Homo sapiens: one gene and its partner. The protein of the gene in region 1 purifies or fractionates together with the protein of each later gene. This does not show direct contact. Each region holds a gene or a part of one and is shown on either strand. Other genes may lie near its edges.

The links. The genes of interacting proteins can lie anywhere in the genome.
Region 2: the proteins of FNBP1L (region 1) and ATP6AP2 purify together in Homo sapiens (affinity purification with western blotting, with the first as the bait; one study listed by BioGRID). This does not show direct contact.

What each region holds. Positions count from the first base shown.
Region 1 is NC_000001.11:93,531,590-93,535,243, reverse strand, and holds part of FNBP1L (formin-binding protein 1-like), read right to left. Parts: intron 2,323-3,654; coding exon 2,176-2,322; intron 540-2,175; coding exon 336-539; intron 1-335. UniProt on the Homo sapiens protein: Required to coordinate membrane tubulation with reorganization of the actin cytoskeleton during endocytosis. May bind to lipids such as phosphatidylinositol 4,5-bisphosphate and phosphatidylserine and promote membrane invagination and the formation of tubules.
Region 2 is NC_000023.11:40,601,316-40,604,969, reverse strand, and holds part of ATP6AP2 (renin receptor precursor), read right to left. Parts: intron 1-3,654. UniProt on the Homo sapiens protein: Multifunctional protein which functions as a renin, prorenin cellular receptor and is involved in the assembly of the lysosomal proton-transporting V-type ATPase (V-ATPase) and the acidification of the endo-lysosomal system.

The DNA of each region.
Region 1 (3,654 bases):
AGAATTCCAATTTTAGTGCTATTTTAGTTAGATCATGTTTCCTTAAAAATTCTGATGGAAACTACATACAAATGAAACTTCAAAAGCATATAACTTAACTAGATATTAACAACTTTGTTAATACTCTTACCCATTATTAAGCGGTAGTCAAATGTTAAATCCATAAATAACTGTTACTGTTAAGGTATTCCTAATATAAGTGAAAGGTTAACTGAATCATTCAAATTGAAAATATTTATTCTCCATTAATGGTAAATCATTTTGCATTCAATACCCACATTGTTTTAGTTGGTACACTTAAACTGATTAGCATATAGGAATTTTATGACTTTTACCTTTGGCTTCTTTCCAAAGAGCCACAATTTGCCCTTGGCCTTTCCTACTGTGGTTTTGGCATCCATCTTCCCACTCTCCTGTTTGGATGCACTGATAGTCCCATCAGAAATGGTTCTATATATATGTTGACTGTAATCTTCAAATGGAAAGTCTCCTGGAGGTTCAAAACCAGATTTGAAGGAGTCTACCACCATTTGAGAGTCCTATACAAAAGAAACTAGGTTTTAAAACTGTTTCACTTGCTCATAATTCTACATCAGCTTTCATAACTTTTTCAGTACAAAAAAACAACAAATATAAGTTTAAATAAATAATTCCACAATAATCATTAAGGTAAATAATTTATTCCCATGAATGTGTAACAAACTCAAAGTATTTTAATCCCAAAAGAAAAATATACTTGCAAATTACAACTTAATTAATTTATAATATTCATAAAATGTTTTTACTTGGTAGCTTTAACCACCTGAAATTCATCTGAAGACTACTTAGCTGAAAAAGACCTAACTGACAAAAAGAATACAGAAAGAGGTTATTAACAAGTAGAAATTCTGAGAAGTTTCAAAGGAAAAAGGCTTTTTGCTTTAAAAGATAGATGTCAACAAAGAAGCTAATCTTTGGAATGAGGAAAGAACATCTAATTGTAAAAGAGAGTAAAAGATGAGTAGGAAAGGCTTTCTAACTCATCCAACATGGGAAAAGATAAATAAATTAAATATATACTGTGGAATGTTAACAGAGCAACAGGGAAAAGATCTCATAAACACTACTGAGTGCAAACAACATTTGAAAGTTTAATACCATGTATTTAAAATTTTTAAACTCACATAAATATTGTTTTTAGACATACATACCTCTACCTGAATGCTTTAGTGATACCTTAAACTCATTATTTTCAGAGTATCTCTACAAATTCCTCCCCACCCCTAACAACAACCTCTCTTTTGTTGCCTATTTCTGTTAACAGTACATTTTGCCCTTCATTTAGTCAAAAGTCATCCTTAAGTCATAGCTTACTTTTGTCAGTAATGCTACCCTCAGCAATAATTTGCTAAAGGGTAATTAGAGAGAAGAGGGCTGTAATGATATTGTATAAACTTGTATCCAGCCATGCTGAAAGCCAAAAATCCTCTTTTCTAAATTTAAGTGAGAATTCTATTAGCTGTAACAGAAAGGATCCTCACTAATATAATATCTACTTGATAGGTTCATGAAGACTAAAATATGTGACACATATCTGATATCCTGCAAACACCAGTTCTCTTCTCTTGCCACTGCCTTTCCTCAGTTTCTGCCAACCATGCTTTTTGATCACTCAATCAACATTTACTGAGATAAAAGACCCTAGTCCTTAATCAAGATACAATGTGATTACCTATCCTCAAGGGGAGGAGGGCTATGCTGTTTCATCTGCACATAATGCCCTCCTTCCTCCTCCTCATTGGTCATCACTCCATATGCTACCCACATTTCTTGATCCAGCTCAAGTGCTAAAGGCAACTCTAACCACATACTTCTCTAAATTTTCACTAAACTAATATAATAGTATAACACAATTTGTAACACACAGTTCCTAGGTTAGACTCTTTGATAAGAACTGAAAACTTAGTGGGAGAAGAGAGTTAGAAATCTTTTTTTTTTTTTTAAGAAAGAATTAGAACTTTTGCATGTAGAATGAATCTCAGAACTCAAAGGAATCTATTGCAAGACATTCTTCTACAGAATATAATTTAGAACCACACATCAGATTACTTTATCCCTTTCTCAACTCATTTCACTAACTTAAACTGCACACCTAAACCAAACAGATGCATTCAAAGATAATTATTTAGCACTTACTCTTCTTTCATCAACTGATTTTGCTGCAAGAATCATTCCTTCCAAACATTTTGAAATGATGGGAATAACTTTGCGTTCTGAGTCAGCAAATCCTCTGTAACACTCACTGAGTTTAATAGTCCTTCGTTCGTCCATTTCTTGTAGTTGCTAATAATCAAGAATTTTTTTAAAAAGAGAAAACTGAATTTTTCAATCATTCTAAAGGAGTTCAATTAGTGATCCCCCATCAAAAATTAAATATTTCTACCCTCATAGTTACACTGTTGTTAATACCTTTTAACAAGTGCTATTGACTTATAATACTTAAAACCTGGGACATGCTAAACAACAAAAGAAAGAAAAAAAATAGTAAGGCACTTAGTATTGTTTTCCTAAAACCAGATGACACTGGGATTCTAGCCTTCTAAAAGGACCCCTTACTGGCTATCAGCTCCCTGCCCCATAGCACTCCCACCTTTTACTATTCAATCAGAGTAGTTCTTGTTTATGCTTCCAGAAAACATTTCATTTGATGACAAAATTCTGGTGCTTTTTTTTTTTTTTAAAGCAACTGGCCCATAACATATACAAGACTGAGACTTTTTTTTTTTTTTTTTTTTGAGGCGGAGTCTCGCTCTGTCGCCAGGCTGGATGGAGTGCAGTTGCGCGATCTCGGCTCACTGCAACCTCCACCTCCCAGGTTCAAGCAATTCTCCTGCCTCGGTCTCTCAAGTAGCTGGGACTACAGGCACGTGCCACCATGCCCAGCTAATTTTTGTATTTTTAGTAGCGATGGGGTTTCACCATGTTGGCCAGGATGGTCTCAATCTCTTGACCTCGTGATCCACCTGCCTCGGCCTCCCAAAGTGCTGGGATTACAGGCGTGAGCCACTGCCCCCGGCCAAGTCTGAGACTTCTAACCTCAAGTTAATTCAGGATACTTTGGTAAGACTTGGCTGGACCAACAGTCCATACTAGTTGTTTATCAACAGGTACCCAGACCTACTGCAGTGTACACCTCAGAGCTGGGGATACGTGAGGAAAAACAGGAAGTCACAAGCTCAAAGTGGCACATATAGAATCCTCACAACTGAAAATTCACTGGCACATGCCACTAGGAAATATGTTGGAACACATAAAGTCCAATAACTTAAAGGCATTTTTTTTTTGACATATCCTATTTGCCAGCACTGACCTTGCTGTTTCATTGACAGCAGTTACACTCCTTGTCTCCCCAAACTCCCACAGCCTGGGACTTTGAGACCTGCATTTTCACAGAATTGCTCCATAGAAAGGTCCAAATCCAAGTATCAGGCCCAAAACACAAAAGGTAGTTTATCTCCACAAGTTATAGTTTCCCCAGAATATGAAGACTTAACTACTAAGCCTAGAAAAGCATCACAGTGAAGACTGGCAGGCTTGGCCCTCTGGATTCAATGACCAGAATTCTGGTCCCCACTCCAGTTCATTATCTCTCACTGTGCTTTCTTTGTATTTCCA
Region 2 (3,654 bases), on another chromosome or scaffold:
AAGAGCAAAACTCCGTCTCAAAAAAAAAAAAAAAAAAATCATCAACAGAATGGAATTGTGGTATATCCCTACAAGCAGAATATGTAACAGTAAAATGACTAAACTACAGCTACATTTGTCAGCCTGAGTGAATCTTAAAAAGAATACTGAACAAAGAACACAGAAAAATACATGTAGTATGATTCAATTTATATAAAATTCAAATACAGGCAAAACCAAACAACACTGTTTAAGAACAAATACATATGCAGTCAATCTGTAAAGAAAAGCAAGGGATTAACATGATATCCAGGACAGCAGTTACCTCTGGATGAGGGAGGGTAGAGGGAGAAAATAGGGAGCTTCAAAGAAGCAAGCATTCTCTTAAGCTATTGATATGGTTTGGCTCTGTGTCCCCACCCAAATCTCATCTCGATTTGTAATCCCCACGTGTCGAGAGAGGGACCTGGTGGGAGGTGATTGGATCATGGGGGCAGTTTCCCCCATACTGTTCTCATGATACTGAGTTCTCATGAGCTCTGATGGTTTAAAAGTGTGCCACTTTCTCTCTCTTTTGCCACCTTGTGAAGAAGGTGCCTGCCTCCCCTTCCCCTTCCTCCATGATTGTAAGTTTCCTAAGGCCTCCCCAGCCATGTGGAACTGTGAATCAATCAAACCTGTTTCCTTTATAAATTACCCAGTGTCAGGTAGCTCTTTATAGCCATATGAAAACGGAGCTATACAGTGTTATTATTTTTATTATTTAAATAACTAGTATTAAATATGTTATATACTTATGTATGTATGATCCACTTAACACTTTTTTTTAAAATACAGAGCTGTGTAAAAACATTGTTTGGGAAACTGAATTCATTCTGACAAAGGCACTGTTTGGGAAATATCATTCATTCTGGCTAGAGAATTTTAAAAGTAGGAACACAGCAGGAGATGAAGCTAGAAGCAGGGAAGCTACAGAAAATCTGACATGAGCCTCTGGGCAATAAGGAGCCATTGACAAGCTTTAGGCAGAAAGTGAGTGACATGATCAGGTTTGTCTTAAAAAGATAACATTAAAATTAAAAATTAGCTGAGTGTGGTGGCTCAAGCCTATAGAACTGGCTACTCAGGAGGCTCAGACAGGTGGATCACCTGAGCCCAGGAGTTTGAGGCTACAGTGAGCTATGATTGCGCCACTGCACTCCGGCCTGGGACAGGGCGAGACCCTGTCTCAAAAAAAGAAAAGAAAAAAGATAACTTTGATGACAATGTGTAGGATGGATTTGGGAGGAGCCAGCTGGGAAGCAGAGAGACAGATGAGTTCAGACAAGTTAGGAGGCGGCAGTCAAATGAGGTGGGAGAAATGGGGGCAGGGTGCCTGGCAGTGAGGATGAGAACGAAAATGTAACCGAGATCTATTTGTCCCTACAGCCCCAGCACCTGGAATGTTGTGAGTACTCAGTAAATGTTCCTTAAACTCCTGTCTCCTTAAACTAATGGAAGAGAGTGATTTCAAATGTAGGAGAGAATGGGTACACAGGCATGCATATTTACCTGCGGGGAGCTCAGAGCTGAGGCAAACGTTAAAGGATTTCACGCCCATGAAGACCTCTTTGTTTCTTTCCTTTTTTTTTTTTTGATAAACATGTTCTTTTTCCTACCCATTTTAAGTGTACAAGTCAAGGAATTTTAGTGGTTTCATAGTTATCACCACAATCTAATTCTAGAACATTTCTATCACCCTAAAAAGAAATCTCATAGGCCGGGCATGGTAGCTTACACCTGTAATCCCAGCACTTTGGGAGGCTGAGGTGAGCAAATCACTTGAGGCCAGGAGTTCAAGACCAGCCTGGCCAACATGGTAAAACCCCATCTCTACTAAAAGTACAAAAATTAGCCGGGTGTGGTGGTGCATGCCTGTGATTCCAGCTACTCAGGAGGCTGAGGCAGGAGAATCACTTGAATCTGGGAGGTGGAGGCTGCAGTGAGTTGAGATTGTGCCACTGCACTCCAGTCTGGGTGACAGAGTAAGATCCTATCTCCAAAAAATCCAAAAAAAAAAAAAAAAAAAAAAAAAAAAGAATTCTCTGGGAGGCATCCCCACTCTCAACACATGTGCTGACCACCCAGAGCCCAGGTGCCTTTCTGTTTCCCTGTGCTGGTGGGCAAAAATTTCCAGTCTACCCTCTCACTGAGGGCACAGCTCTCTCGGGGTCCCCAGCTTTATCTGGAGTTGTCCATTCCCATCCCCCACACACAAGGCACCAAAGGACTCTTGGTGACCCAGCTGGCAAATATCCTTAGGGCGGCCTGCTTACCACATTCGGTTTTTTTTTTTTTTTTTGAGATGGAGTCTCACTGTGTCACCCAGGCTGGAGTACAGTGGCACAATCTCAGCTCACTGCAACCTCCGCCTCCCGGGTTCAAGCGATTTGTCTGCCTCAGACTCCTAAGTAGCTGGGACTACAGGCGTGCGCCACCACGCCCGGCTGATTTTTTGTGTTTTTAGTAGAGACGGAGTTTCACCATGTTGGCCAGGCTGGTCTCGAACTCCTAACCTTGTGATCCACCCACCTCGGCCTCCCAAAGTGCTGGGATTACAGGTGTGAGCCACCGCACCCGGCCTCCTCTTCTTTATTTACTCTGTAAGAGAATTTCCCTTTCTTGCGAGCTGAACTATGTATTTTTATTTTTGTAATTTTTTTTTTATTTGAGACGGAGTCTTGCTGTGTCTCCCAGGCTAGAGTGCAGTGGTGCAATCTTGGCTCACTGCAACCTCTGCCTCCCGGGTACAAGCAATTCTCCTGCCTCAGCCTTCCAAGTAGCTGGGATTACAGGTGCCCGCTACCACACCAGGCTAATTTTTGTATTTTTAGTAGAGACGGGGTTTCACCATGTTGCCCAGGCTGGTCTAGAACTCCTGGCCTCAGGTGTTCCGCCCGCCTCAACCTCCCAAAGTGCTGGGATTACAGGCGTGAGCCACCACACCCAGCCCAAACTATGTACTTTTTAAAAGATCTTTATTTTTATCTAGCATTTCTAGACGTTTTATGGTGGGAAATCTTGGGTGGTTGTCTAGACTGACATGCTGTCTGAAACAAAGGTCCTTCCATCCCCAATTTAATTTAGAAAGAAACAATCTCAAACCAGTAATCGCTAGACTATCTCAAACAGGCACTGGCTTCGACCTTCCGACTCCAAGTCCCACACTGACTTCAGTAAAACTGAGCAGGGTGAGGGCTGCAAATGGGTCTGAAGCGGAGGTGTATGTAATTGAGTGGATATCTATCTGCTGCAAGTGATACAGCCAGCCCTAAGCAATGTTCTCAGACGTAGGATGTTAGGGAGCATCTACACTACTCTTTCCCATCACCCTCCCTAGGTTCTGCTGCAGCTGTAAGTATATATGTATGTATGTAAATGTGCACGTACATACACATAAACAGATATGTATTTTACCATGGCCAGCAACCATGGTAATGCTTAACCCTGACCCTCTAAATGCTTAAAATCAAAGCAAGATCCATACCCAAAAAAACTGTTAAGTAAATCAAAATCATAAAGAGGTGCACACAGAGGATCTCAGTAAGTGAGGGACTACGCCACAAAGACAATGTGCCTGCTAGAAAAGCAGAGCCCATAGGATGTGGGCACCACACCACTCCCGCACACATTCAC